Linked DNA regions of Homo sapiens: all the other regions are reported to be linked to region 1. The links are microRNA targets in miRTarBase. Many come from high-throughput screens and were not tested one by one. Region 1 holds a microRNA gene; each other region holds the end of a gene's coding sequence.

Region 1 (4,262 bases):
GATCTCAGCTCACCACAACCTCCGTCTCCTGGGTTCAAGCGATCCTCCTGCCTCAGCCTCCTGAGTAGCTGGGATTATAGGCATGTGCCACCATGCCCGGCTAATTTTGCATTTTTAGTAGAGACGGGGTTTCTCCATGTTGGTTAGGCTGGTCCCGAACTCCCGACCTCAGGTGATCCACCCGCCTCGGCCTCCCAAGTAGCTGGGATTACAGGTATGAGCCACTGCGCCTGGTAATTTTTTGTATTTTTAGTAGAGACGGGGTTTCACCATGTTGGCCAGGATGGTCTCGATCTCTTGACCTTGTGATTCGCCCACCTTGGCCTCCCAAAGTGCTGGGATTACACGTGTGAGCCACTGCACCCAGCCCCGACCTCTTAATACTATCATACTGGCCACACCTGAATTTTGGAGGGGACACAATCAAACCATAGCACCACCTTTACTGACTTGTGTCTAACTTAAATTCTTCTTGTACATTGTAAAGTACTTAATAATCCAATTGGCGTGAGTTACTTTATTCTTATTTCACCACATCCATTATACTTGGGAGGCTAGGTGACTGCTTAGCCCAGTGAAATACACACTGTCAGAACTCTTTATTCCTCATCTAATGATAATATTCTGATTGGGCTTGGTTTCCTCCCAGGGTGGACAGTGTTTCCCAGTTATGTTAGTCCCCATTTCAGGCCCCTGCTGGTGACTGAACAAGACCATTGGCTGATTTGCTCTCAAGTCAACCACTGGTGATTCCTGTAAAAGTACATGGCAACAATGGAAATACCATTGCTGTCTCAGAGGAAGGGATGGACTTGTGCCTGTGGGTCTTCCTATGACCCTACTGTTCAGCCATGTGTTCTCACTGGGCCCAAATGTCAATTGCCTTTGTGGGAACCAAACCCCAGACCTCACAAATGGACAATTAATGGAGCTCAGTCAATTAAGTAACTGGGCCTTTTTGCTGGTCCTGGCCATGCTTTCAGCCATTCAAAGAACATCATTAAATTTAAAATAACATAGCAATTCTTAGTATTAAAGTCTACAACCTTGAGAGATATCAGAGCATGGGTTGAAAATAGCATGCAACAAGACCTCGCTCTCCCTTCTCTTCCCCCTCAATCTACAATAAGGTTTTCTGGAGCCACCCATAATTCAAGGTGGTGGCAGGGACCTCATTACTCTCATTTCCTGCCACAAAAATCCCCCATGGTGAGAGACAGGACATTGTACAGTCTTCTCCACTCAGGCAACAGATTTCTTCCGCTTCTTCCAATCCAGCTCCTATGACAATTGGCTGGGGTGGCTGAGGCTGTGGGGCTGGAGTCAAATCCAAAATGAAAGACCAGCACCAATTCCTCCTACCACCCAAGCCCAGGTCCTGAGGATGCAGCTTCATACACCACGGCTTGTGTGAAGACTCTGGGGACTTTTGACATAGTTGTTCGGTGGCAGGCAGGCTAAGCAATCCTCTGTGTATATTTGATAGCACCCTCTTTCCCATCACAGCGCATGTAACACAAAACACTCACATGCAAGCTCCTCTCACAGGCATGCCAATTCAGGCACACTAGCTGTGAGGCCACTCCTCTCTTTCCCACTCAAAAAAAACCCATAGTGGATTAGCCGGGCATGGTGGTGCATGCCTGTGGTCCCAGCTACTCGGGAGGCTGAGGCAGGAGGATTAGTTGAACCCAGGAGGTGGAGGCTACAGTGAGCTGAAATTGATTGCATCACTGTACTCCAGCCTGGGCGACAGAGTGAGAGCCTGTCTCAAAAAAAAAACAAAGCACAGTAGGATGCAAGGGAGTAAGTGGTGAGTGATTTATGATAGGGATAATCCTGAATCCACTGGAATTCCCTGCTCCTCTCCTCTCCTCCCCTCCCCTCCCTTCCTCCATTCCTTCCTTCCTTCCTTCCACTGGAATTCCCTCCCTCCCTCCTCCCTTCCTTCCTTCCTTTTTATTTCTTTCTCTCTTTCTCTCTTTATTTACTTTCTTTTTCTTTCCTTTCCTTTCTCTCTCTCTTTTTTTTTTTTTGTGAGACAGGGTGTTGCTCTGTCACCCAGCCTGCAGTAGTGCAGTGGCTCGATCAGGGTTCACCGCAGCCTCAACTTCCCAGGCTCAAGTAATCTTCCCACTTTAGGCCACCCACCGACCAAGTAGCTGAGACTACAGGTGTGCGCCACAGCACCAGTTAATTTTTTCTTTTTTGAGATGGAGTTTTGCTCTGGTTGCCCAGGCTGGAGTGCAAAGGCGAGATCTCAGCTCACTGCAACCTCTGCCTCCTGGGTTCAAGCGATTCTCCTGCCTCAGCCTCCTGAGTAGCTGGGATTACAGGCATGCGCCACCATGCCTGGCTAATTTTGTCTTTTTACTAGAGACGGGGTTTCTCCATGTTGGTCAGGCTGGTCTCGAACTCTTGATCTGAGGTGATCCACCTGCCTTGGCCCCCGAAAGTGTTGGAATTACAGGCGTTAGCCACCGCGCCCGGCCACTAGTTAATTTTTTTTAAATTTCAGTAGAGATGAGGTCTCACTATGTTGTTCAGCCTCGAATTTTGTTTCTCAAAGTGAAACACAATTATGAGTAATAAAGGACCCAGAATCCCTTCACAGCCATAACAGCATGCTTGACAACTGCTGCTGCCTAGCTTGGGGGTTTCCAGCCTTGAGGTTGAGCCTACCCTAGGCTTAGCAGGAGGCCAGAGCTGAGCTGAGAACAGAGCCCAGGATGATTATCACTCCTAATCCATGAGGTACCAAGATGTGGTTCTGTGTGACACCTTGAGATGGCTGAGTACTCTCAGTCCCTATTTATTCTTAGCAAAGCAAACCACAAGCCTGCAAGCTGCTTGATGACTTAGGGCATCAGTGTTCAGAAGGTCTCTATGGGGACTGATGTCCTGAGGTGACTAGACGCTTCCAGACATCAGTGCCCGTGGCACCCAGATGACACTTCTCGCGAGGCTCCCGTTTTTCTGCAGACTAGGCTGTCTCTTCATAACAGAGCCTAGTTTCCATCAAAATGCCCTGACTTCTCGAGAGGACAAGTGCTAATCTTTTTTATTTTTTCCATGCCCACGGCCGGTCAGAGAAGACCTATCTCTACCTACCATGCTCCAGATAGCCTTACCCTTGAGCCAGATTTGTCTAAGATGGTGATGGTGATAACAAACACATCTCGGGTGTACTGATGGACAGGAAGTCAGGAGAGACAATGACTTGCTGCCCTGCTATGCTAATTTGTTGGCCAATTCATAGGAGGTGGCAGCTGAAGTTGTAATGATAACTTAGAGGGCAGTGGCAGCAGGAAAGTTTTCTAAAAATGGCTTTTATTACAAGGCTTTCCTGAGTTTGGCTATACCCAGGCATTATGTCATTAGGAAAAACTGATGACACTCAATAGAGAAAAAGAAATCTGTTCCTAAAGCGGAGGCTTTCTGAAAGCTATTAGCTGTCTCCTTGAAATCACAACATTGAAGATTTCACAGCAACAGCAACACATTGTAAGGAAGCATTAGGAGATGTTTGCATCTCTGCCTTCTTTATTACTCATTTCTCTAGTAGGAGAAAGTGGGGGAGGAGAGGAAAGATGGCAAGGTTTTTTATTATTATTATTCATTCACACTTAATAAAGCAAAGCATAACGCTGATTTTTTTTTTTTTTTTTTTTTTTTTGAGATGGAGTCTCACTCTGTCGCCCAGGCTGGAGTGCAATGGCGTAATCTTGGCTCACTGCAACCTCTGCCTTAGCCTCCAGAGTAGCTGGGATTATAGGCGCACACCACCACGCCTGGCTAATTTTTGTATTTTTTAGTAGAGACGGGGTTTTGCCATGTTGGCCAGGTTGGTCTCAAACTCCCGACCTCAGGTGATCTACCCGCCTCGGCCTCCAAAAGTGCTAGGATTACAGGCGTGAGACACCATGCCCAGCCAACCCTGATATTTAAAAATAACATATCTCGGTTGCAGTGAGCCGAGATTGTGCCACTGTACTCTAGCCTGGGCAATGGAATGAGATCCTGTCTTAAAAAAAAAAAAAAAAAGTAAAAGAAAAAAAGAGTTGACTACACTAAGATGGATGGTGAAGATGTTTTGCTGCTATTTGGTAAAATAATAATAATAATAAAGGGGTCAGCGTGGTGGCTCACACTTGTAATCCCAGTACTTTGGGAGGCTGAGGCAGGAGGATCGCTTGAGCCCAGGGGTTCAAGACCAGCCTGAGCAACATAGCAAGACCCCGTCTCTACAAAACATTAAAACA
Region 2 (4,000 bases), not on the chromosome of region 1:
GCTTCTACCTTAATCTTTTTCTTCCATAGTGTCCTTGAAGTGGAGATTGCATTTTGAATTTGTAACGTCCCGAGAACCAGGATTGGTACTCCTACCCCCTGTGGAACAGCCCGAACCTACCACCTGGACAGGACCTGAGCAAGTACCTGTAGACACCTTCAGCTGGGACCTGCCCATCAAGGTGCTGCCTACTAGCCCCACCCTGGCCTCATATGCTGCCCCAGGCCCCAGCACCAGCACCATAACCATCTGAAACTGGCCCACCCTGGTGCTAGTTCCTTCCGGATACTGAGAACTCAGCACCTGGACTCTAATGGGACCCACTTTTTCCACCTGGGGTCCAATGTCGTGGACAGTGAGAGTCGGGCTTTCAGCTATAGCATTAATTTATTTGTTCAGAATACATTGGCAGCTGCTAGTGGTTTCCCTGGAAGTGGCAGCAGCAGTGAGCAGTCAGCAGATGGATGATCAGTTGAGTTTAGCTGGAGTGGGGAGCAGGAGCCCCAGGAACAGGGGTGTTGGCTGAGCCCCATTCTGGGTCAGGCCCTCCCCCTTTGCAGGGCAGCCGAGGGTCAGATTTTTGCACCAAGGAGAACTGGCAGGTTCCTGCCTCCTGACGTACCTCACACCCAGCCGGGAAGTCGATGGGATGCTGGGACCTGGGGAACCAAGGATAGGGGAAGGAGTCAGCACAGTGAAAGGCTGCCTTTATCCCTGCCCACATGTTCCCTCTCTCACAGTTTTCCCCCCACAGAGCCCCTTTCAGTGGCCCCTTGGTCCTCCTAACTAAGCTGTCACCTACCATATGTGGGCCTTTTTGTTTTATAACAGGAGTATTTTCTCTCCAGGTCCACCCCAACCTCCCCTGATTTATAGCCTGAAGCCTTATCTTTCACACTAGTGTTGGTCCCTTCAGGTTTGGCCCATCTTGTATTGCTCTTCTGTTCATTCTTACATCACAGCAATCTAGTCACTCCCTGGTCATCCCTCAGTCACTCATATCAGAGTCATTCTCTCTGGCCATCTTTGGTCACTCACGTGTCACAGCAGCCCACGCCAACAGGATGCAGACAGGTGCAATGGAAACAGTCCTTGCGGAGCCAAGACTCACCCAGGGTAAAATATTTCCCCTCATAGTGACAGGGGGCTAGGGAAGAACGGGAAATGTTAGTAGGTGTAGGAGTGCTGATGAGAGGCAGAGGCTCTTCTGGTCTGGGGTGGAGACAGTAAGTACGCACTATCCCCGTATTTAGTTTGTCTTTCCTGTTTCACAGCTGGAGGAAGCCTGGGTATTTTGACACGGGATCATCTGTAAGGCCCCATCCTCCCTGTGCCCTCTCTGCTGCTCCTCCATTCCTAACGCTTCACCCCACTTTACCTTGAGCTTGGAAGTAGCACTTGCTGTAGACTCCTGGGTGCTGGAGGAGTAGAGACATCACCAAGCAGATGATCCCCCAGCCTCCTAGGATCCCCTTGGCCTGTCCAGCCCAGAGCATCCTTAGGGCCATTGCTGCTGCACAGCCCTCTCAGACCCTTCTTGGCCTCTGCTCAGCTACTCTGGTCTTGACTCCTTGACTTTGCTTTGCGTTGCTCCTTGAGTCTTAGTTTCTGTCTTTCTCCCCTGGGCTCCTGTCTCACACTATCTCCCTGCCCTCTGCTCTCACAGGCTGGGGATGTTTATAAAGTGAGGACCCTGGCCCCCTGCTGAGTAGAGCTGGAAAAGTTGTAACTCTGTTTCCTGAGGTGAGGGCATGAAAACAAGAGGTCTAGCTTTAACAAGCTGTGAGAGCTGATTCATGCCCCGGCACAGCTAGAGGGAGGGAGGTGGCCATGGAGGGGGCACTGGACTGGGCACTTCCCCAGCAAGGAGGCAGGAGGGGCGAGGGCCCCCAGGTGGTCCCCAGATCTCTTCCCTGACCTGGAGAGAAGGAAGCATTCCACCTTCCCCCTTTCTCCCCCACTGCCACCACCAGGGGTGTGTATGCTGGGATCCCTGCCTGGACCGGAGGGAGGCATTTCCTGGGGATGGTTAATCCTGTGCCCCAGCCAAACCCAGGAGCTGCAATAGGGTGCGACGGCCAGAAGCTCCAGGAGAGTGAGCAGGCACCTGGAGTGGAGACTGTGTTTCCCTCAGATCCTAGGGCAGGGTTTCCCTAATGTATCCAAGAAATAGGGCTGCCCCTCAGAGATGGTGGGGAGGGTCTCTTTTCCTCAGGCATTCCAGAGGTGAACTGTCCATTGCTTATCACCTTCAAACATACAGCAGATGTGGGATCACCCCACATCTGGGGATGGTTCTTTCCCCTTTCAAAGAGGAGCATCTCTAAGTGCCCTGATGGGATGAATCACTCCAGGTTCACAGAGGTGTCCTCTCTTTCCTCCCATATATAATGGAGTGAGGTTTTTAGGAATTTATCATTTGGCATCCTCTGAGTTTCCCACAGGTTCTGGAGGAGCCCAGGATGGATTATTGAGAGCATGGGCTGTAGAGACAGTCTTCTTGGATTCAGATCCTGACTCCACTTAGCTATGTAACCTGGTCAGATTACTTCACCTCTCTGAGCCTGTTTCCTCATCTATAAATTGGGGATAGTAATGCCAACTCATTGGGCTGTTATGAGGATTACTGAGATAATGCGTGCAGTGCTCTTATCACCATCTCTGGTGCGTAAGCGTCAGGAAATAGCAGTTGCTGTGATTGGGGCTAAAGCTCTGAGGCAAAATGGGCGACATTATTTTCTTTGAATGACATTAAGCAGTTTGTGCATAGCTGAGGGCTTCTATTGGGGATGGCTGTCTCCTGGCATAGACCTCTGCACCTTTCACACTCATACTCCTTGTCAGCAGTCCCCAACCTTTTTGGTACCAGGGACCGGTTTTGTGGAAAACAATTTTTCCACCAGTGGATGGAGGGGGATAGCAGCGGGGAGATGATTTTGGGATGAAACTGTTTCATCTCAGATCATCAGGCATTAGATTCTCATAAGGAGTGTGCAATCTAGATCCCTTGCATGCGGAGTTCACAGTGGGGTTTGCACTCCTGTGAGAATCTAATGCCTCTGCTGATCTGCCAGGAGGAGGAGCTCAGGCGGTAATGCTCACTCGCCTGCCGCCCACCTCCTGCTTTGTGCTCCCGCTTCCTAACAGGCCACAGACTGGTACTGGCCTGTGGCCTGGGGGATGGAGACCCCTAATCCATGTCACCTTTCCCACCTCTTTCAAAAACAGGTACCTCCAGGAACATTTTGGTTTTGGCCCTTGTATTGACTTCTGAATGTCTAGTTTGAGAAACTGTTCCCAATAAGCCTTCTTCCCCCAGATCTGCACCCTCGCCTCTACCCTAGGACAAGATGTCCTTTTCTCATCATCCTGCCAGGCTAACTTTAAGTCTCCTGCTTTTTCTCACTTGGATTTGGATCCATTTCTTCCTATTTCCGCTCATGTGAACTCTCCAGTTCTCCTTTCTCACCACTCTCCTGCTAGCCATCTCTTTGGCACTAAAGGCCCTGGTCAAATTGGATTTCTTTCATTTTTCCACACTTCAAAGACCCATGTTCTAGGTATTCTCCATAGGGATAGTCTCTTTGGCATTTATTTGGTTTTTCTACGTTTTCAGTCCCATTTACTCCAAGACTCACTCCCTGCCACCTAGTGCATCAGATACAGCTACTTCTGGCTGACTTTTCAAGGGGGACCACCCTACCTGTCATCTCTTCACTGTTCAGAAATGACTGTGTCAGTGCACCTCAAACTCCCTTGCTGTCCTTTTCCAAGGAGACAGCTAAGGTGGATGGAGATGCAGAATGGACCTCACGTTCGCCCTAGTCAGGACTGATACCCTTTCCGTTTCAGAGGATTGCCAAGAAAAAACTCACAGTTGAGGCAGGGTGCTCTGAGGTCGGCTGCGGTGTGGGAGGCACGGCCTGGGCCTGCTCTCTGGGCTGGAGCAGGTGGATTCGAAGGCCTGTCTAGCACGAGGGCCCAAAGGTCTTGTCAGTGG
Region 3 (4,262 bases), not on the chromosome of region 1:
CTGCACCCAGCCCTCCCTGACCGGGGTGGCAGAGAAGAGGCCCTGGGTGTCAGGGTGGACCAGGCATGATGGGTGGGAGGGGGCTGGAAGGGAGAGACCAGCCTGGACAGCTGGTCCTGGGGGCTATGGAGGGTCAACGGTCTGTGCGGTTTCAGAGAGGCCCGTGCAGGGCAGGACAGCTGGGACAGCAGGTGAGGTGCCTGGGTCAGTGCTGATAGGGCAGTCAGGCCGCCACTGACCTGAGCATCCTGCAGGGGGAGGAGGCGGCCAGGCGCTCTACATCGATGGGGACCTGAACCGGGGCCGCACAAGCCACTGCGACACCTTCAACAACCAGCCCCTCTGCTCCGAGAACTTCCTCATTGCTGCCGTGGAGGCCTGGGGCTTCCAGGACCCTGACACCCAGTGACGGCCTGTGCCACGGTGACTGAGCCGTGGTGGGGCGGTGGGCCGAGGCTGGGCTGCCGCCTCGGGCAGCAGAGAGCAGATGAAACCCCCATGTGGTAGGCAGGGTTGGGGGACGGCAGGACCCCATGGCCAAGCCTGGCGTTGCCTGGACCTGCTGCTGCCTCTACCTGGGGTTTGGGCTGGGCTTCCCCAGTCCACCTGCATCTGGGTCAGAGCTGGAGGGCCTGCTGTGCCCCCAGCCCCACCCAGAGCTGGCATAGGAAGTACCTTCCTCCTCCGTGGAGGCTTCCATAGCCCAAGGCCTTGGGAGTGTCTGGGTCTTGCTGCCCCTGAGCCTCTCTAGGCAGCCTGAGCCCCTGGGGTGGGAGTACAACGGCAGTGGGAACGTGCAGCTAAGGGTGGGCCTGTGGTGCCCCCTGCTGGTGCCGCATAGCATCGCGCCCTCCTGAGCAGGGCCCTGCAGCCTGGCTGGCTGGCGACTGAATCCCAGCGTAGATCCCGAGAACAGACTGGCACCCTTGGGCCTGCCCCCTGGCGGACCCCACCCCCTGTCCTGGGCGTTTGCCCCAGTTCCCTCCCCAGGCCTCCTGGGCCACCTCTCACATTAACCCTTCTTGGCTGCCTCTGAGGCTCCCCTGGGCTGCGTTTGGGAGCTGCTGGGTGGGAGGAGGAGGGTGGGATTTGTGCTGGGCTCCACCCCCAGGGAGGGTGGGAGCTGGAGGGGGATGTCACATGTCCTTGTGTTTCTGCAGAGCCTGAAGCTTTTGCTGGGCCTCCCTGCGTGTTCCCATCTGAAGAGGTAGCCCCGGGAGAGGCCCTCAGGGACCGACCCAGACCAGCAAGCTCCATTTCCAGGGGTCTGCCCAGAGAAGCCTGGACCCAGGGGGCTTCTCAGCTCCCCTCCCTTCCAGCCCAGGCCTCCTTGAGCTCCTGTAGCCTCTGCAGCTGCCCATTTCACCTCTTTGTCATTGCAATGACCTGGGGCCCAGGGTCACGCCCAAGCCCCTCTTTGTGGCATGCTCATCTCAGTGCAGCCCCAACTGCTTCTCTGCACCAGGCCCCGTGCCCTCCCCTGGCCCTGGCCACACAGCACCTCCTTGGCCACCTTGCATGGATGCATGTCCTCCCTCTGTCCCTCTTGTGGTGCTGTGGCTGGCCACGTGTCAGGGTTTTCTGTGAGCCTCTCACCTTACAGCCTTTGGGCCCCTGGGCCCCTGCCCTGCCTGAGCCCTGCGCTGGCCAGACGCAGGTAGGTGCCAGGGGAGGCCTTGCCTCTGGGCACTATAGGGGGCAGCCCCCTGCCTTGTGACCTCCCTCCATGCCCCATGACCTCCTTCAACTCGTCTTGAGGGTCTGGTCACCACGGAGGGGAGAAGGGAGACACAGAGGCCCAAGTGGCTGTTCTGGGACCATGGAAGCCTGGGTCACAGAGGCAGGTACCAGCAGTCCTGCCCCCACCCCCGTCCCTGCTGGCCTCCAGCCAGTGCCACTTGGAGTCCCCTGCACCGTGCCACTTTCCATCCCCACACCATTGCCTGCTCCTCCCATGGGGCTTTAGCCTCCCCTGACCATCTGCTCATGTAGCCTCTGACTGGGCGCACAGTGGTGCAGGAGGAAGGACCGGGAACCCTGTGTGGCTTTGGGCAAGCTGACAAACCCGTCTGGAACTCAGTTTCCCCAGCTGTGAAATGGGGCCAGTCCCCATGCCCTGCTGTCCTCCTCACAGGACTGTTGAGAGGCTCGCAGGGGGATGGGGTGAATCCCTCTCACGGGGAGAGGTATGGGAGGGAAGTCGCCACTCATCTCAGCCCACCGCAGCCCTCCAGGCCCCCGCCTGAGCCCCTGAGGCCCTCATCTGTACCGCCAGCTTTGGTGTTCATTAAACATGGTCTTGCTGCATCAACTCCAGGGCTCCAAGCTGAGTCTGATCTCTTCAGCCAGAGGGGCCTCCGGGGGCTTCCTGGGCCTACAGCCAAGCAGGTGTGGGAGGCTGCCCGCTGTAGTGCTCACCCACATTCTATGACTGGAATGCTGCAAGCCTCTTCCAGAGGGAGCCCTCCAGGAGCAGGGAAGTCATATCCGTGGACCATTTGTAGGTTTCCCTCTGCAAACTTCCTGAACTGGGTGGTGATTTTTCTGGCGAGTTAAGTCCAGCAGGTTCTGCGTGGCTGCCCCCAGGGGGCCCCACCCGGGCCTTCCAGTGATCTGGACCAGGAAGACGGATTGCTGCTGGGTCATGATTTCCACATCATGAGCGAAGTTCTTTGTTTTTTGTGTGCATGCAAAATATTGTTTCTTTAAATTTAATATCTTTTCCTAACTTTTCTACTAACCTAGAAGGTATGTGTGATTATTATCTTTTTTATTCTTATCACTGTACTTGTTAGTATCTGATATTAGGTATTCCCAAATAGAACATAATTTATTTTGTTAATGTTCTCTATTTCTTCTTGATTATTTATTAGCTTTGGATGTTAAAAATTAGCCAAAAGTGGCTGCTCTGCCTATGAAGTAGCCATTCTTTGTTTAAAAAAAAAAAAAGCCAACATTTGTTGAAACTGCATAATAAATTATCATTTGTTTTTAGAAACATTCAAAGAATTATTTTTTGATTTTTTTTTTTTTTGGGACAGAGTCACCCAGGCTGGAGTGCAGTGGCATGATCTTGGCTCACTGCAACCTCCGCCTCCTGGGTTCAAGCGATTCTCCTGCCTCAGCCTCCTGAGTAGCTGGGATTACAGGCATACGCCACCACGCCCAGCTAAATTTTTTTTGTATTTTTAGTAGAGGCAGGGTTTCACTGTGTTGGTCAGGCTGGTCTTGAACTCCTGACCTCGTGATCCACCCCCCCCTCAGCCTCCCAAAGTGCTGGGATTACAGGCGTGAGCCACCGCGCCTAGCCTATTTTTTAATTTTTTTGAATAGACCACTTTGTGCTGAATAAATGTTTAACATTTATTTTTAAAACAACAATTGCACCTAATTTAAAATAGTTTATTAAATGAATTCATTAAAGCAGATTATATGCCTTTGGGGCTTCAGAAAATCAGTTTAAGCAAAAGAACTTATGAGAGTAAGTCATTTGTACTTGAATTTTTTCAGAGTTTTAATGAACTAAAGTATTTTAATTTTTCTATTTTTGTAAGCCGCATACTTCATTTTTTGAGTTTTTCAGTGGAATTTGTTTTAAAACGTTTTGAAGATTTCAGAGGCCTTCATATTTCTCTTATCCACTTTCTGAACCCATAAAGCCTTTGCAGTCTCCTTGAGTAGTTTATATTTAGTAATTTAGTTGTGTACCTTTTTATTTTGAAGTAATTTTTGATTTGCAGAAGAGTTGCAGAGACGGTACAGGGTTTCCATGTACCCTCACCTTCCCCCAAGTCAATATCAAAACAAAGAAATAAGCATTGTTGCATTGCTGTTAACTAAACCACAGGCCTATTGAGATTGTCCCTTTTTTTTTTTTTTTTTTTTTTGAGACAGAGTCTCGCTCTGTCGCCCAGGCTGGAGTGCAGTGGCGCGATCTCGGCTCACCGCAAGCCCCGCCTCCCGGATTCACGCCATTCTCCTGCCTCAGCCTCCTGAGTAGCTGGGACTACAGGCACCTGCTACCACACCCGGCTAATTTTTTTATATTTTTAGTAGAGATGGGGTTTCACCGTGTTAGCCAGGATGGTCTTGATCTCCTGACCTCGTGATCTGCCCTCCTCGGCCTCCCAAAGTGCTGGGATTACAGGCGTGAGCAACCGCGCCCAGCCGAGATTGCCCCGTTTTTTTCCCACTGTCCAGGAATCGATTTAATTTTTACAGTTGTTTACTTTCTCACATTTTTACTAAGTCCAGAATATCAT
Region 4 (4,262 bases), not on the chromosome of region 1:
TTAAGGTATCACCTGATTTTGATACAGCAGCAGGAAGCTTGTTCCCAGCCTACCAGAAACACCAAAACCGGGCGAGACACTCAAGTCGAAAACCTACCACCTCCAAGTTTCCACATCTAACTTTTGAGAGTCCGCAATCTTCCAGTTCAGAGACATTGGGGATCCCCTTAATCCGAGAGTGCCCCAGTGAATCAGAAAAGGATGTTTCCAGAAGACCCTTAGTTCCAGTGCTCAGTCCCCAAAGCTGTGGGAACATGTCAGTGCAGGCACTTCAGAGCTTACCTTATGTGTTCATTCCACCTGATATCCAGACCCCAGAGTCATCGTCTGTGAAGGAAGAACTCATTCCCCAAGATCAGAAGGAAAACAGCCTTCTAAGCTGCACTCTTCACACTGGCACTCCTAATAGCCCAGAGCCTGGACCTGTTCTGGTTAAAGACACCCCCGAGGACAAGTATGGAATAAAGGTCACATGGAGGAGACGACAGCACCTGCTTGCTTACCTCAGGGAGAGAGGGAAGCTGAGCAGAAGCCAATTCCTTGTGAAAAGCTGACTGCCATCAGTAATCTCAATAGAAAAGAGATATGTTTTCTGGAGTCATAAAGGAATTCAATTCCTAGGGTTTTTGTTTTTGTTTTTGAGATGTAATATTGCTCTGTTGCCCAGGCTGGAGTGCAGTGGTATGATCTCACCTTACTGCAACCACCACTTCCTGGGTTCAAGCGATTCTCCTGCCTCAGCCTCCCCAGTAGCTGGGATTACAGGCACCAGCCACCATGCCTGGCTAATTTTTTTGTATTTTTAGTAGAGATGTGGTTTCTCCATGTTGGCCAGGCTGGTCTCAAAATCCTGACCTCAAGTCATCTGCTGGCCTTGACCTCACAAAGTGCTGGCCCAGCCGAGATTTGTTTTCTAAGATACTTTGTGTCATGAACAGTTCAGTTTAGTGTCATGAACTATTCACTTCATATTTTTCTTGTATTAACTGTTTAAATTTTTAAAATATCTTGTAGTAACTCTTTAAAATGTATGTAAGTAAATGGCTGCAGAAAGTTTTTTTAGAGAATCCTGCTTCCATCAGTAATACAGCAATATTACCCCATCCACTAATGGTCTTTGTTTCCTTAACCACTACTCATTAATCCTTAATCACCTCATTCAAACTAATTCATTCTGCATTTTTGAGTACCAACTCTTGTCAGGCTCAGTGGCAGCTTCTACGACCTGATGGATGGAAAAAAATCAAACTCTGTGACTCTATGGTTGACTGCCACCTCTGCAACCTTGACTCATCTGCTGAAAAGGCAAGAAGAAGAAAGGGCAGCAAGCCCTGTTTTAGGGACTACATAAGATGAGGGGAGATAAGGGGGACATAGATGAGTTCTTTAGGATTGCGTGTGTTTTGAGTTTTTGTTTCTAACTGAAGAAATCTGTCAATATTAAATAGGGTGGGAAAATGGTTTCTTAGAATAACTGTTCAACTGTGTGTAAATAAGGAAAGTTTTCAATGAGTATTACTTATTGTAATTAATGCAGAAGGACTTCCCCAGTCAACCGAATGTCTCGGCCTTTTACTCAGACAAGTAGCATCTCATTAAACCCATTCATTTAGCATTCATTCAGCTGGACCTACTGTGTCAGGTCCAGCCCCAACTAGATCAAGCAGGGATTACTGTATATTTTACAGATGGGAGTTTGATGCAGAGAATGAACCATGCACAGGTCACACAGTGAGTGCACGCTGACCCAGGCAGTGTAACGGTCCACTCTCAGCGTGTGCCTCCTAAAGTACTAACTTGTAGGTTCAAAACCAATGTGGAAACAACTTTGACCTTAGAACGCCATAAAGCCATTTGTGCAGTGACTTGTCAGGACTCAGGATGTTTTGTAGGGACTATAATGTGCATGTCGGTAGGGAGAAAGGGACTGACATTTGGGGACGGGATTTATTGGAGACAAGAGTACACATTTAGACAGGGGCTCTCACGGTGGGCTATGGATGTTTGAGGAAGGCCCACAGGAGGTAGAAAGGTAGATGGAAAGAGTCTCCAGGACGGGCCCACGCCTGTAATCCCAGCACTTTCGGAGGCTGAGGCGGGTGGATCATTTGAGGTCGGGAGTTAAGAGGCCAGTCTGGCCAACATGGTGAAACCCTATCTCTACTAAAAATACGAAAAATAGCCAGGCAGTAGTGGCCCCTGCCTGTAATCCCAGCTACTCCACAGGCTGAGGCAGGAGAATCGCTTGAGCCTGGGAGGCGGAGGTTGCGGTGAGCTGAGACCGGGCCACTGCACTGCAGTCTGGGCGAGAGAGAAACCCTGTCTCAAAAAATTAAAGTCTCTGGATTCCCTCGTGTGCTTTAGGGGAGTCTGTAGAGCAGGTCTAGGAATGACCTAAAAGCTTGGGCTGGAGTAGGGGAAGCTTAAGTTCTGTGCAGTTGAAGTTCAAGGCCAGCCTATGGAAGATGCGTTTCACTGGGAGTGACTGATGGAGTGGAGAGGGTACCAGAGGGGGTCCACGAAGGCCGCTGGTATCAGGGCAGGGGCCAGAATGGGAAGCGGCAGAGGTCTGTACATCCTCACAGGGCAGACCTCGGGAAGCGCTCTGGGTGGGCTCGGTAAAAATGGCGGGGGTGCGAGGAGCCGTTGCGTGCGTGGCGGTTGGTGCGGTATAGGAGACTCCTCTGACCGGACTCGCCTGCTGGCCGCGCGGCGGGCGAGGCCCAGGCAAAAACAAAGTCTTCCCGCTCAGTACCGGCCCCGCGAGGCGCTCCAGAGGACCAAGCCTTAGCTCGCGTCACCCCACCCCCGCGCAGGCGCGTTTAACTCCCGCTCGCCTCCCGCCCCTTAGCAACCCTCCCGCATCGTTGGGCCCCGGCAATAGCCAATGAGACAGGAGCCACGAGAACACGGACCAATCGGCGGCGGCGACAGTGTGGAACGCGGTTGCCAGGAGGCGGGACGCGGCGGCGTGCCAGCCTAGCCACTCTAGCGACGGCGGGGAAGAGTGTGTACGTGGTGGGGGCTTCCTCGGTGGCGGGCATGGAGGCTTCGCGCTGCCGGCTCAGTCCCAGCGGCGACAGGTCAGACAGGGCCGTGGCAGGTCTCCTCCTGAGCGAGGCGGAGGGGCGAAGCGAGAAGGCGGAGGTCCTCTCCGGGAGCCCTGCGGGGAGAGGGCGGGACTCGGGACTTGGCGACTCAGGGAGGGACTGGTTTCGGCGGCGGGAGGCGACCCCCTCGCCCTACTCCCGTGTGGGGACCCCTTTCTCAAGTGGAGCGGCGGCACTACATCCCGCGCCGTGGGCAGAGACCTTTGGTTCAGGTCCCTGCTTAGGAACTTCTGGAGTTTTCGTGACGGGCTCCCTCGGCCCCTCTGGGCCTCGGGTTTCCCTCGGGGGAGAGGCGCTGGCCCCGCTCAGCTCCCACTGCCCGGCGGTGTCACAGCCGAGAGGGGACCCAGCCCCTCCCGGGAGGCGGTGCGGGTGATGTTTAGTAGCTTGTTCTGACGCCGCTGCTTCGGACGGGTAAAGCTGAATTCTGGAGCAGAGTCCGAGGAGCGGAAACGCGAAACTTCTTTTTCCTCTCTGCTTTCCAGTGTTTGTCCCTGATTCGGGATGGTCTGACTGATTTGCCAGTGGGCCACACCCCTTGTTTGTGCGCCTCTTTCTCTGCCAGAGGGAGAGCCTCGGAAAAAAAAGGATCCAAAATCTCAGCGTGTCACTTTCTTGTTCGCTAGGTTAATGAGAAGTTAATGGGAAGCCGTTTGAAATCATTGGTTAGAAACTTTGGCGTCATCTGAGGATTTAAGCCCTACACGCCAACTGTATACCCCGCTTTTTATTCCATTACCAAGACAAAGATTTGGGGCCAGGCGCCTTGGAACACGTCTATTATCCCCAGCACTTTGGGAGGCCAAGGCAGGAGGATCGCTTGGTCTCAGGAGTTCGAGACCAGCCTGGACAAGATAGCGAGACCCCCATCTCTAGAAAAAAATAAAATAAAATAAAATCAATCAGTCAATCAATTAAAATTTGGCCGGACACGGTGGTGCGCGCCTGTAGTTCCAGCGACTCGAGAGACTGAGGAGGGAGGATTCCTTGAGCCCAGGAGTTCCAAACTCCTGTGTTGGGCCACTGAGCTCGCTAGCCTGGGCAACGCAGTGACATCCTGTCACCTTAAAAAAAAAATGATTTGACGTGTAAGTATTTAGTTTGATATTTCCACTAGTAGATATTTAAACAATTTTAAACCATTTTTAAAAA
Region 5 (4,262 bases), not on the chromosome of region 1:
TATAAAACTGAACCCGTAGGTACCGTCCTTAAGCAGGAGTACCCTGAAGGTGTCGATGTGGTCTATGAATCTGTTGGGGGAGCCATGTTTGACTTGGCTGTAGACGCCCTGGCTACGAAAGGGCGCTTGATAGTAATAGGGTTTATCTCTGGCTACCAAACTCCTACTGGCCTTTCGCCTGTGAAAGCAGGAACATTGCCAGCCAAACTGCTCAAGAAATCTGCCAGCGTACAGGGCTTCTTCCTGAACCATTACCTTTCTAAGTATCAAGCAGCCATGAGCCACTTGCTCGAGATGTGTGTGAGCGGAGACCTGGTTTGTGAGGTGGACCTTGGAGATCTGTCTCCAGAGGGCAGGTTTACTGGCCTGGAGTCCATATTCCGTGCTGTCAATTATATGTACATGGGAAAAAACACTGGAAAAATTGTAGTTGAATTACCTCACTCTGTCAACAGTAAGCTGTAAAAACAGAACAATGACATAAATCAAGGGAGAAAGAAAATGGGCACTTTATGTCTCAGAATTACTCAAATCAATTTATTTTTAGTTGGTAATGGATATAATATTTCTTAAAACAAAAGTAAGGTGTTAATGAATAGGTCTCTCCTTCTCCTCCTCCTCCTCCTCTTCCCTTGGGGGAAAAAAAAAAATGTGCTAATAAAACTTCCCTCCATGGCTAAGAGGGAAAACGCTTACATTCAATTCTTTAGTCATGGATGGTCTCGTTCCAGATGTTATTGTTCCAGGGAACTAAATTCATTCCTGATGCCAGATCTGATCGAGTCAGTATGTCTTCAGCTTGATCAGATTTTAAAATCAGTTTTGAAAGTGGTTCCCGACTTCTTTGCTTTGGGAGAATTTGGTCTTATGCTCATAAGCAGTTCATGAGTGACAAGTGTAGCAAAAGCCAGCCATATATTTTCAGAATCTATATCCTCAGGAAATGGTCCTTTTTTTTTCTATAAATCACCAACCAACTATCTAAATGGACATTTGGGGGAATTCCCTCCCAAATTTGATTTTGTTATTAGAAAAATGATTCCGTGAACACAGATGTGTTTTGAAGAAGTAGCACGTAATGGCTTTTATCTACCATCAACCTGATAAGGCACATGTGAAATGGAAATGTTCTCTTTCCTCTGAAGCAGCAAATTAATGTTGAAAACTTACATAGACAGAAAGTAGGTTTTGGAAAGGGAAACCACAGAGATTAGGGGGACTTAAAATTAATATAGGCACAGGAAAGAGAAAAGTGTGCGCTCCATTCTCAGTGGGGGTTCACCACAAAACACGGGCCCCAGGAGGGAAGCGCTGTCTAGGCACACGGCAAGGCCTTAGTAACAGCATGCTACACTGCTCGAGGTACGGTATGTCCCATCGCCCTGTGCACCGTAGAGACCTCAGTCATCTCAAGGAAGAATACATTTGCTTCTCCTTAGAGGCGTTCGAACTAGAAGCTATGCGTTACCTCTGATTCTGGAAACAGAATAGCAGCCACTCATTCTGCATTCCCATTTTTCTCTCCACGTGTTCTGGTGGAATGAGATGCTCCTTGGCACTATAGCCTGATGTCCCACATTGACCCACTGACCACACAGGAAAAGCAGCGAAACCTGCACCCTCTCTTCTGAGTCACGCCTGTGGCTCATCGGCTTCCCTCTTAACCTTTAGTGCCCTGAAGACTGCTGCCGCTGTCACCGTTGCGCTGAAACCCCATGGGCCCGTTCTGATTGAAGGTGAAGCCCACCAGATTATTTTTCAAAGTCTTAGGTTTCGGTGTATCTAACCTGCTCAGTAAATATGGACGCAATTAAAGATGCTCTAGGAAATTTGGGGACTGTATTTAATTTTTCTTTCCTTCCATCTGAGGAGCAAGGAAATCCTACTGCTGAATAGCTGTTAGTATCTATTTTACAAGATTTACTCATTTTCAGGTACCTAATGTAGCTGCTAGCATGCATGCACAACAATACAATTTATATGGTAAATGGAACCAAATAATGGCTTCACTGAATGTTATGGCTGCACTGAAGGGAAATGTCACGGTAAATAGCTGCCAAATTATGGATCATGCCGAAGTGTCACAACTGCACTAAAGACAAATAGCACTAGAGGCTATTGCCACTGTGACGCTTTTGAGTTATGAAGAAGGGTAGCGGCCTGATGCGAGGCTCTTTGTGTCCTCATTATAGCAAAGGGTTACTGGTGCAGGGGACTAGGAAAAACCCGTCCAGTGTGGTGCTTAGTTATTCATCCATCCCTTTCAGACCTAACAGCCACAGCCACACGGAAAGAGACTTTGCCTCACTTTTACATTCACAAACAAACAAAGGAGGGGGGAGCAGGTTTTATGAATGTAACTGTGCACAGGAAATGACTGGTAATGGAAAAAATGTTGTAATAAAATAATCTAATCAAAGAATATTATTAAATTTAACATAGTCTATGTCCAAAAGGCTTAGTTGCTTCTTATGCAGATAGATGTGTGAAATCTAAGCAGTAATGTACTTTCTCCCTTTGTAAAGACTTGGGGAGTAAGGACATTACCAACTAAATTGCTTCTTCGAAACTGAAGTGAGTCCCGGTTTGTTTCATTTTAATGGGAGGGTAATAAAGATGAAAGACCAACATTTTAACTGATGGATCCCTTAAGCTACAGAATAGAAATTTATTGTGTTTTGAGGGAATATACTAAATGCAGCTATGTAAAAATAAAATTCAAACGCCCAGGATTAAAATAAAATATAATCTGAAAACCTCATGTTCTCTCTTTCCCCAAACTAAGAAAGTGCACTGCATGCTGTTTTCACTTATTCTTAGAAAACAAGCATGAAAGATTCCGCCCATTCAGATAATGCCAAAAATATGTTTAAACTTTTTTTTATTCTTTTGAAAAATGATTTGTAAATTGAGGGTCATAGTTCAGCATCAGTTTCATCTTCTGGGATTATTGTTCAAGACCAGCCTCTAATGGGAGGTGAAACGGTACGATGGTCTCAACACCTTTCTTCTGAACTGTAATACATATCACAAAAAGTACATCCATAATTCAGGGCAATTGTCAGTCTTTTTAGAGAAGGGGCCAGGGTGGAACAATCCCAGTGAGTAAATTATTTCTCAGCGTGGACTTCTCTGCATGTCGGGCTTAAGGTCACCAGCCGGGCAGGGTGGAAGGAGCTTGCCTCTTTGAGAAACCAAGGAGTCCCAGTGATCTGTTACCATTTGGTTATGACTTCTAAAGAGCCAAATGCTATTCCTTCAAGCCTGTTTTGCAGGCAGAAAATACCAGCAGTGTCATTTAGGGGTTCCTTTGATGATGACTACTGCTGTTAACTGACCTCAGCATTAAAAAAAAAAAAATTCAGGGAATAGTTTGCAAAGAAATGAAGGAAGTTTTGCATGATATATTCTATAACTTGTCATTATATGATTTCATCTGGATGAAGTTCCTCAGGAGTAGGATAGAGCCTCTGTAAATGGTCATTAGTATTACATTCTGTGTTTATCTAATGAAAGTGCAGTGACAAGTAGCTGCTTCTTATTAAAATGAAAATCCTGCATTATGTACTTGAGGAACATTCCAGCTAATGAGGATGTAATGTCCTCAGTACAACGCAGACCTTCTTTTTGTGTTCACCACCACAAGATGCTGGAAGCTTGACAAATGATATCATTTAAGACACATGCCTGCCTTAGGGACCTGGTTTTTGGCTTCCTGTTTCTGGCTTTTATTTGGGTAACGTTTATAATGGCCACCCGACTTGTACCTGGGTAATGTTTTAACCCCTTCCCCAGAGTTCTCAATTAGCATGAATTTACTACAGTCAGAGTTTCCTTTAAATTGGGGTGGGGGTGCTAAGCACTGAAAATATCTTTCTTGATTACTTTACCATGTGGACATATGGGATAAATACTGTATTTCAGATTTACATAAAAGTAGATTAGTAATGCACAGCTTTCAGAATAAAAACTGATAAAAAAGACCAAGCACTATCAACTTTGGACAGTAATTTCCTAGGTGTTAAACAAGTTTTCTGAATACAATCTGGATGCAAAACGGCCTGATTTGATGAATTCATAATTTTCTTCTGTATACTTTCATTTTATTAAATATTTTATTACTTGGTTAAACACAAGAATTATCTATGTAAACTTCATGGGCTTTTTTGTTGAAAGTTAGATGTTCAGTAACTAATTTCCCAGTTATGGCCCAGAATTAAACATTTATGATCATATTTCAGAAGTCAAAATACAAAACTGGA
Region 6 (4,262 bases), not on the chromosome of region 1:
AAGGTGGAAGGAAATATTTAGTAAGTATAAAATAAAAATAGAAGAATGGACCCTAGAACTGTTAAGCCTACTCAGCATTTGATTTTGAATATATATGCATGTACTATTTGTTATCTACTATGTAAGCATAACAGATTTTCCTGAATGTGATATTTTACCATTACTATTCTGTTGGACCTCCAAAGTATATTGTAATTACAAGACTGTCTTTTTTTTCCATCAGAACAACAACCCAAAGTGCGTGGTTGGCTTCTGGCTAGCCTTGATGGCCAAACAACAGGACTTATACCTGCGAATTATGTCAAAATTCTTGGCAAAAGAAAAGGTAGGAAAACGGTGGAATCAAGTAAAGTTTCCAAGCAGCAACAATCTTTTACCAACCCAACACTAACTAAAGGAGCCACGGTTGCTGATTCTTTGGATGAACAGGAAGCTGCCTTTGAATCTGTTTTTGTTGAAACTAATAAGGTTCCAGTTGCACCTGATTCCATTGGGAAAGATGGAGAAAAGCAAGATCTTTGATATCTTTCATGTTTGCCTGCAGTTGAACAATACTTTAGAGTACTTTTTAAAATTATTTCTCACAAAGAAATGAATGTACAATCCAATGAAAACATTTGTTATTGGCTATTTCAGGTGTTTTGCTGCTAGAAATTATTAAAGTTACACACTAGTATGTTGGTCTGGTGACCTGGTTACATTTTATTATACACATTATTGGACCATAAGGACATTTGTTTCACCTAGATTTTAAGATTATGGAGACTGCTGTCATTTTTATCTTATTTAAATCTCTAGGTTTATTGGAAGAGTAAGATTGATGAACTATAGCATGCACAGTTTGGTACAGTAGAGATCATTAATACTTTTAAAAGTTCTGCATTAATTGACTTGGAATCCTTAGAAATGGAGTGGTGACATGTCAGTATGAGAACAGGCAAAAGGTAAATTTTTTTTTTTTTTTACAACCTTAAGTAATCTCAATAATAAAATTTTCTGATCTGTATTATATCCAGTGTTGGGTTTATATTTTCACCCACAAACAACTGACACTGCTATCTTTTACTGTATTTTTAAAAATTTAATTTGAAAAGGTCACCCAGAAGCATTCTGAAGGAAATGGTTCTAGAATTATAGAGTATGTAGCCCTAATAGTTTTCCCTCCTAGCAAAAAGTCTGAAATTTATCTTTCTTACAAACTGTTCCATTTCTTCTAAGGATCCCTTAATTATTTATCTCTTTAAGCCAGGCATGGTGGCTCACGCCTGTAATCCCAGCACTTTGGGAGGCTGAGGCGGGCAGATCACCTGAGGTTGGGAGTTCAAGACCACCCTGACCAACATGGAGAAACCCCATCTTTACGAAAAATACAAAATTAGCTAGGTGTGGTGGCACATGCCTGTAATCCCAGCTACTCGGGAGGCTGAGGCAGGAGAATTGCTTGAACCCCAGGAGGCGGAGGTTACGCTGAGCCGGAGATCTCGCCATTGCACTTCAGCCTGGGCAACAAAAGCGAAACTCCATCTCAAAAAATAAAATTATTTATTTCTTTAAAATATGACTAGTTTTCATACTGGGTGAATCAGAAGTATATGAAAGGTATACTTTCTTTTCCTACAACAAATACTTGAGTTCTTTTGAGTTTGCACTTAATGATATAATCAGTTATAATAGTAATTTTTAATATTTTCATAGATTGTTTGCTTCTACCTTGTGTAATTTTTTAAATTCCATATTTAGGATGCTCTGTAAATATTGAAAATGTGTCACATTGGATACATTTTTCTTTTAGGTTTAGTTTTTACTACTGAGACTTATTTATAGTCTTAGTGCTCTATTGCCATTTAGAATATGATAATCCTCATGCCTTTAATCTCAGCACTTTGGGAGGCCAAGGCGGGCGGATCACCTGCGGTCAGGAGTTTGAGACCAGCCTGGCCAACACGGTGAAACCCTGTCTCTACTAAAAATACGAAAATTAGCTGGGTGCAGTGGCGTGCACCTGTAGTCCCAGCTACTCAGGAGGCTGAGGCAGGAGAATCACTTGAACCCGGGAGGCAGAGGTTGCAGGGAGCTGAGATCATGCCACTGCACTCCAGCCTAGGGGACAGAGCAAGACTCTGTCTCAAAACAAACAAACAAAAAATAATAATACGATAATGCTATTTGACGTGTTTTTTGGTTTATAATGATTTTAAATGCAGTTAACTTTCAGTACACTGAATATTTCCCCAGAAAATTGGAAACTTCATATACTTGGCTACGAACATACTACAGAGTAATACTATCAGGAATACAGGTGTATAAGAATACATTTATAGATATTGTTGAAAACTTTGAACTGTTTGATAAAAATTGTGATTTAGTATTTTTTCTTTTGTCTTTTTTTGAAACGGAGTCTCACTCTGTCGCCCAGGCTGGAGTCCAGTGGCGCGATCTCGGCTCACTGCAAGCTCCGCCTCCCGGGTTCACGCCATTCTCCTGCCTCAGCCTCCCGAGTAGCTGGGACTACAGGCGCCTGCCACCAGGCCCGGCTAATTTTTTTTGTATTTTTAGTAGAGACGGGGTTTCACCGTGTTACCCAGGATGGTCTCCATCTCCTGACCTCGTGATGAGCCCGCTTCGGTCTCCCAAAGTGTTGGGATTACAGGCGTGAGCCACCGCACCCAGCGATTTAGTATTTTTTTCTAATAGACTATGTTCAACAAATAAGTAATTCTCGAATAGTTCAGATTAAAACATACAGGAACCAAGTACATACCCAGCATAGAAGAACTTTACTAAAGGCTTCTTGGAAAGCCCTTTTTTGAAACGACAGTATCGTAAGTAACATATCATTTATAATAGAAATCTTGACCCAGTGCAGAAAAATAAATATAGTAAAATTTATTTATCTTTGGCCAGTTTTCCAACACCCAGGTATTAGCCTTGAAGTTGAAGAGATAAGGTTTCTTGTATATTATTTTTCATTTGTGTTCTACAATTAAAGGTTCTGCTTTGATTTGTCAGATAATTTATAGAAATTTTGTTCTCAAAACAAATGTTTGATAAAACAGATTATTAAATTTGGGGTTGAGATGTCTAAATTGAATGCTAGAAGTAAAGTAGAAGTGACCACTATTAAAGATGTATAGGGAGAAGAGTACAGCACAAAGTGATAAAATAGTGACACTTTTGTAGGGGTGTTTATTGTTTGGTTAAGTCTGCTAAATTACGGTATGCATTATCTGGTGACTATTTGTGCCTGAAAATTCGTTTTGTATTAAAATTCTGGAGAAGGAATTCAGGACTAGAATAAAGAGAAATTTTGTAACCTTTTTTATCATGACAGTTTTAGAATAATTTTTTTAGCTGAGATTAAATGTTCAAGGCTCCAATATTATTTTTAGGAACTTATTTAAGGAGTGCTACTTTACAGAAATTACTAACACACCAAAACATTATTAATTAAATAAAATATAAGTTTACAATAATAAAACATGTTTCTTTTAATTTTTCTGATTATATTTTATGAGTTCAGAAAGGAAATGGTAAAAGAACTATACATTTTCATGTTTTAACATTTTATGTACGTACTTGATTCTGTCTGTGTCATAATTACACATTTACTTGAACACAGCTATCCTTTATCTTGTGCTTTCTTTAATAGAAAAATGAACAGAAACTGAATGCAGTTAAATTTTTATTTTTAGTAGGTTGTGAAGTTACTTTTACTGGAGAAATAAAAATATGTTAAACTTGATTGACTTTTTAAGATAAATTGTTAACACTTTTGCAGGATTAGAATTAATATGAAGTATCTCTTTAACATTATTGTATATATTACCTACTGCAAACCTATCTGTTCTGTTTCTTTGTGATTTAAAGAAAAATAGGCCAGGCATTGTGGCTCACACCTATAATCCCAGCACTTTGGGAGGCCAAGGCGGGCGGATCACAAGGTCAGGAGTTCGAGACCAGCCTGACCAATATGATGAAACCCCGTCTCTACTAAAAATACAAAAATTAGCCAGGTGTGGCGGTGGGTGCCTGTAGTCCCAGCTACTTGGGAGGCTGAGGCAGGAGAATTGCTTGAACCTGGGAGGCAGAGATTGCAGTGAGCCGAGATCGCGCCACTGCACTCCAGTCTGTGCGACAGAGCGAGACTCCATCTAAAAAGAAAAAAACAAAAAAAAAAGAAAAATAATACATTTATATAGAATTACCTACAGGTGTGTTAAATAAAAACACTTCATACCTAGATTTTGGGGGATCTAGATTCT
Region 7 (4,262 bases), not on the chromosome of region 1:
GCTCTATGAGGCAATGTGTATAGACAACTAGAAAAACCACACAGCCTACTTTTCTCTATAGTCACACAAACTCATTGGGTAAATGAGTTAGAAAAAGAGAAATAAAATTGCTCCTTTAAATCAGAATCAGGTAACTGCTTAAATACATAAAATACCAAATCAGAAGAAAAGTCTAAAGATATACTTTTGGTAACTTCATAAAATTCAGCCTCTTTTGACAATTTTAAATAAGGCTTTTTTTCTTGCTTTGTTTTTGTTTTGTTTGGGAGGATTACAGTTTAGGGATAAGCTTTTCAAGTTCACTGTATTTTTCTAGCATCAATCCTGAAGTCTTGTATTTCACATGTCAGAGTAATCTGCACTAGTATTTTGAGCAACTCTCATTTTATGGTCAGATGTGGCAGAAGTTTTCCTAACCATATTAGTAGGAGCTTTCAAACATTTTTTAAAGGAAAAAAAAAAGGCCTGTCTTGTGGTGCTTCTTCCCACCACTCCATTGATCTGTGTGGCAAGGGTTCCTACAAAATTCCCAGGGAAGGGGTAACTTTCAGTGCCATAAACCCCATTCACAGTAAGGATTTTCAACTACACCCTAAAACTATGATGGTTCTGGGCTCCTCCAACATATAGCTCAGTGAAGATCATCTTGCCTGAGAACTCTGAGGTCCTTTTCACTGCTGCCAAGAACATAAAACTAGGAGAGGGTATCTGAATGGTGAATGCAAAGTCAGCCTGCACTGTGTAGCAGTTTACATGATGAAGCCGAATTTAAGAACTGATCTGCTAGATGGATCCCACTGGTAGAAATGATCCCCTTGCCAAGGTTAAGTGTCACCTCTAAAGGAAGCCCTAAGTCCAAATGAGCCTTGTTTACAAGGTATAATATAAAGAGACCTATCCTTCTAATAGCTAAGTGACCTCCAATCCCAAAGCAGCCACTCTGGGAGACCACACACACCACAGCAATGCTATCATGGTTGGTAACAAGGAATCCCTCTTTGGAAACAGCTTTCTAAGCTTCTAGCATTTTTAATACCCGCAAGGTAAACTTTCATCCTTTGAGGCTGTAGTTCATTGTGCTAACAATTCAAGATCAAATCTTGTGAGCCAGATGGTACAATCCAGGTGGATACTGTAAATTTTCATCAGTATCAAAAACAGCGACTACAGAATAATGACAAACTTTTTGTGTGGTTCATAAACTGATTCCAAAAGTGACTGCAGAACTAGCCAAAAAGCAACAAGTTTGTACTAATAGCTACTATTTATTAGATAGTCTGCAAAGCACTGTGAAACATTACATACATTATCTCAATTATTTTTTATGAAAACCCTATGAGGTGGATATTTACGTCCACGTCTACAGATAATGCAAGAGTTTCTGAAAGAATAAGCTACAAACCCGTGACATGCAATTTACCTATTAAATGAATCTAAAAGTTTAAAAAAGCTGGGCGCAGTGGCTCACGCCTGTAATCCCAACACTTTGGGAGGCTGAAGTGGGCAGATCACTTGAGGCCAGGAATTTGAGACCAGCTTTGCCAACATGGTGAAACCTCGTCGTTACTAAAAATACAAAAATTAGCCAGGTGTGGTGGTGATGCCAGCTACTTGAGAAGCTGCAGCACGAGAATCACTTGGACCGGGAGGCAGGAGTTGCAGTGAGCCAAGACTGTGCCACTGCACTCCAGCCTGGGCAGCAGAGTGAGACTCTGTCTCAAAAAAAAAAAAAAAAAAAAGCCACTTGCCCATGATCACGCTGCTAGGAAAAGTCAAACCATAATTTAATCCTAATCTGTCACACACAAAGACAACATTGACAGGAATAAAACTTACTTCCATGTAGGAGAGATGCAAGTTGTCAAAGAGAAGCAGAATCACTTTATCATATACAGAATCAATGTCATCACTGTCTGAAAAAAGATGCTCTGAACAATTCTTCCAGTTTATTGATTCTGAACCTGCCATGTCTTCAAAAATGGCATTATTAGTGAAGCTGCTCAACAAGTCCTCTGAAACAAAACAGCTAGCGAAATGGGTATTTGTATTTAGTCTAAATTATACTTTTAGGACTTCATCTTATAGCTATACCCTGAATCGATATGCTTAATAACATTAGGATTGAAGTTATCACTGTAATAGCAAAAGAACAACCTAAGCATTCACCAGTAGCAGATTAAATCAATTATGTTATATCTATTCAAAAAAATTTTAGGCAGCCAAAAAAAGAATGAGGTTCCTTGCTACTTACATGCTGGTATAGAATGATCTCCATTAAAAAAGAAAAAAAGAAAAAAAAAAGGCGAGGGCTAGACCTCCATGTATAGTTACTATTTGTGTTACACGTGTTTGTTTAGGCACAGACTCTTTCTCAAAAGTATAAGGCGAAGTGGTAACAGTAACTTGTCAAACAGGAGCCAGGAGCCAGAGAACAGGGGTGGGAGAGGCCCTTTATATGAAATTACTTTTGTATCTTGTCCCATGGCAAAAGTTAATTATTCAAATTTTTTTTTAATTTAAAAACAATACAAGCTGATTATACATTTGACAAATACAAGGAATTTCTGACTGCAGGAAAAAACAAAGCATCAACTACAAAGAGAAGCAGAAATTCTTCTTGAGCTGCTGATTTTACTATACATTTGGGCTATATTTTTTCTTAAGACAATCACTACAAAGTAATAATATAAATACCTTTTTTAATGTGAAAAGGTATAAAATCTCCTTTAAAAACTTTTCACTTATCCATCATATAACATCAAATGTACCTGTAATCCCAAGTATGATTCTTTTGAGAAGGAAAAAAGTCAGATCAAATACATCATTAAGGAAAAACATGCACACTAAATAGACTATGAACTCTACTGGGACAAAGACCATTATTTTGTGTATTTTTTCATTCCCCAATTCCTGACAGGATTCTCAGAATCGTTTCTTCATGAATAGCAAATTGACTTATTGGTTAAATTAGCAACTACAGAGCTGCCTAACAACAGTACAAAATAAATGAATAATTCACCAGAAACTAGCTCTAGATACTAATTTTAATTACTTTGCAGCAACATAATTTAGTACCAAATGTTTAACAAGTACCCATTATAATTACTAAACTGTGAAGTCACTATTATTTGTATCTGACCAGCTATACAAAACTCATCAATTTTTCTTTTGAAAAAAGGTAGTAAAAATCGCAAACGATAAAGAAGACACTACTCATTAAAAGTCATGTTTACTAATCTAGCACCATAATTCCAGTCTTAGAACCTCCCATGCAGTTGGAAAGGGATTATGGGAAGAGGTGAGTATGTTGGAAATGTCGGGTAGTTCTCAAATTGGGGCCCCATTTTGCTTGCTTTAAAGCAAAAAACACAGGGTCTAGCAAAGAAGAGAAGTGCTGAGGCTGGAGACGAAAACAAAAGCTTTTGGTTCAGATAGTAAACGAGGCCCTCAAGAGCAGTAGAATCAGTATATCCTGAAGGCAGTGCTGGAGGCAGTCTCATGCACTAGGGGGTTTCTTCTTGGCATCCAAGTCCTTTTTAATTTCTTCAAGTTTTTTAGCCAGGTTTGGTATCTTTGAAGAGAAAAAAGGTTATTATAATTTTGCATCTACCTAATCAATATTCTTGTACTTCTCTTCCTCCAAAGATAAATGGTTTTACAAGCTTTTATCTTCCTCCAAAAGAGATCTGCTAAATAGTGGTTATTTCTTTTTGCTTTCTTTTTTAAGATAGGGTTTCACTCTGTCACTCAGGCTGGAGGGCAATGGTGCAAACACAGCTCACTGCAGCCTTGACCTCCAGAGCTCAAGTGATCCTTCCCGCCACAATCCCGCAAGTAGTTGGGACCACGGACATGCCACCACCCCTGGCTAATTTTTGTATTTTTTGTAAAGATGGGCTTTCGTCACACTGCCCAGGCTGGTCTCGAACTCCTGAGCTTGAGCAATCTGCCCACCTCGGCCTCCCAAAGTGCTAGGATTACAGGCGTGAGCCACTGCACCCGGCCAATAGTGGTATTTCTTAGCCTTATAACTGCATGTGAAAGATATCAGAAGTTGTCAGATAAGTATGCTCCTTCTCTGAAACCCACTTCTACTTTTGTATACCCACTTCCGCTCGATCTGGTGCCAAGTAAAGGTTGTACATATAAACAATAAATGTGACATAATGTAGCCTTTGCCTAGAAAACTGTATGACTCAAACGAAGGTTGACAAAGGAATTCCCTTTGTCATATGAAAAGCTTTATAACAAATCAAGTTAGT

What was found. The annotated mature microRNA hsa-miR-766-3p reads ACUCCAGCCCCACAGCCUCAGC and lies in region 1 at 1,303-1,324, opposite strand. An mRNA with a match to its seed (bases 2 to 7 or 8) in the 3' UTR can be bound and repressed. Matches are read on the target gene's strand: a 7mer-m8 pairs with bases 2 to 8, a 7mer-A1 pairs with bases 2 to 7 and ends in A, and an 8mer does both.
Region 2: miRTarBase lists RGP1 as a target of hsa-miR-766-3p. Seed matches in the 3' UTR shown: 7mer-m8 at 482-488, 7mer-m8 at 1,274-1,280, 7mer-m8 at 1,418-1,424, 7mer-A1 at 1,919-1,925 and 7mer-m8 at 3,941-3,947.
Region 3: miRTarBase lists TBC1D24 as a target of hsa-miR-766-3p. Seed matches in the 3' UTR shown: 7mer-m8 at 623-629, 7mer-m8 at 1,123-1,129, 7mer-m8 at 3,052-3,058 and 7mer-m8 at 3,915-3,921.
Region 4: miRTarBase lists RHNO1 as a target of hsa-miR-766-3p. Seed matches in the 3' UTR shown: 7mer-m8 at 668-674.
Region 5: miRTarBase lists PTGR3 as a target of hsa-miR-766-3p. The part of its 3' UTR that is shown has no 7-base or 8-base seed match.
Region 6: the mRNA of PEX13 is a reported target of hsa-miR-766-3p. Seed matches in the 3' UTR shown: 7mer-m8 at 2,417-2,423, 7mer-A1 at 3,271-3,277 and 7mer-A1 at 3,714-3,720.
Region 7: miRTarBase lists STMP1 as a target of hsa-miR-766-3p. Seed matches in the 3' UTR shown: 7mer-m8 at 1,686-1,692.

Annotation. Positions count from the first base shown.
Region 1 is chrX:119,645,461-119,649,722 of GRCh38, forward strand. MIR766 (microRNA 766) reads right to left here and starts at 1,388; the gene lies at 1,278-1,388. All of the region lies in intron 5 of SEPTIN6 (septin 6), which reads right to left. RefSeq lists an enhancer at 2,442-2,621.
Region 2 is chr9:35,752,622-35,756,621 of GRCh38, forward strand. It overlaps RGP1 (RGP1 partner of RAB6A GEF complex), which reads left to right. Exons shown (of 9, transcript NM_001080496.3): 9 at 30-4,000. The coding sequence ends at 253. It overlaps MSMP (microseminoprotein, prostate associated), which reads right to left and starts at 1,655. Exons shown (of 3, transcript NM_001044264.3): 1 at 1,379-1,655; 2 at 1,039-1,147; 3 at 369-659. The coding sequence starts at 1,508. The coding sequence ends at 479. RefSeq lists an enhancer at 269-1,468.
Region 3 is chr16:2,500,550-2,504,811 of GRCh38, forward strand. TBC1D24 (TBC1 domain family member 24) reads left to right here. Exons shown (of 8, transcript NM_001199107.2): 8 at 255-4,262. The coding sequence ends at 409. Among named protein-coding and RNA genes, the nearest start is that of ATP6V0C, 11 kb to the right of the region's middle. RefSeq lists an enhancer at 1-362.
Region 4 is chr12:2,887,906-2,892,167 of GRCh38, forward strand. It overlaps RHNO1 (RAD9-HUS1-RAD1 interacting nuclear orphan 1), which reads left to right. Exons shown (of 3, transcript NM_001252499.3): 3 at 6-1,619. The coding sequence ends at 554. It overlaps TULP3 (TUB like protein 3), which reads left to right and starts at 2,986. Exons shown (of 11, transcript NM_003324.5): 1 at 2,986-3,083. The coding sequence starts at 3,043. RefSeq lists an enhancer at 2,382-2,561 and a silencer at 2,832-2,881.
Region 5 is chr18:75,197,619-75,201,880 of GRCh38, reverse strand. It overlaps PTGR3 (prostaglandin reductase 3), which reads left to right. Exons shown (of 2, transcript NM_175907.6): 2 at 1-4,262. The coding sequence ends at 465. Among named protein-coding and RNA genes, the nearest start is that of PTGR3, 9.4 kb to the left of the region's middle.
Region 6 is chr2:61,048,249-61,052,510 of GRCh38, forward strand. PEX13 (peroxisomal biogenesis factor 13) reads left to right here. Exons shown (of 4, transcript NM_002618.4): 4 at 224-3,742. The coding sequence ends at 522. Among named protein-coding and RNA genes, the nearest start is that of SANBR, 15 kb to the right of the region's middle.
Region 7 is chr7:135,673,400-135,677,661 of GRCh38, reverse strand. STMP1 (short transmembrane mitochondrial protein 1) reads right to left here. Exons shown (of 3, transcript NM_001130929.2): 3 at 1,246-3,571. The coding sequence ends at 3,497. Among named protein-coding and RNA genes, the nearest start is that of STMP1, 13 kb to the right of the region's middle.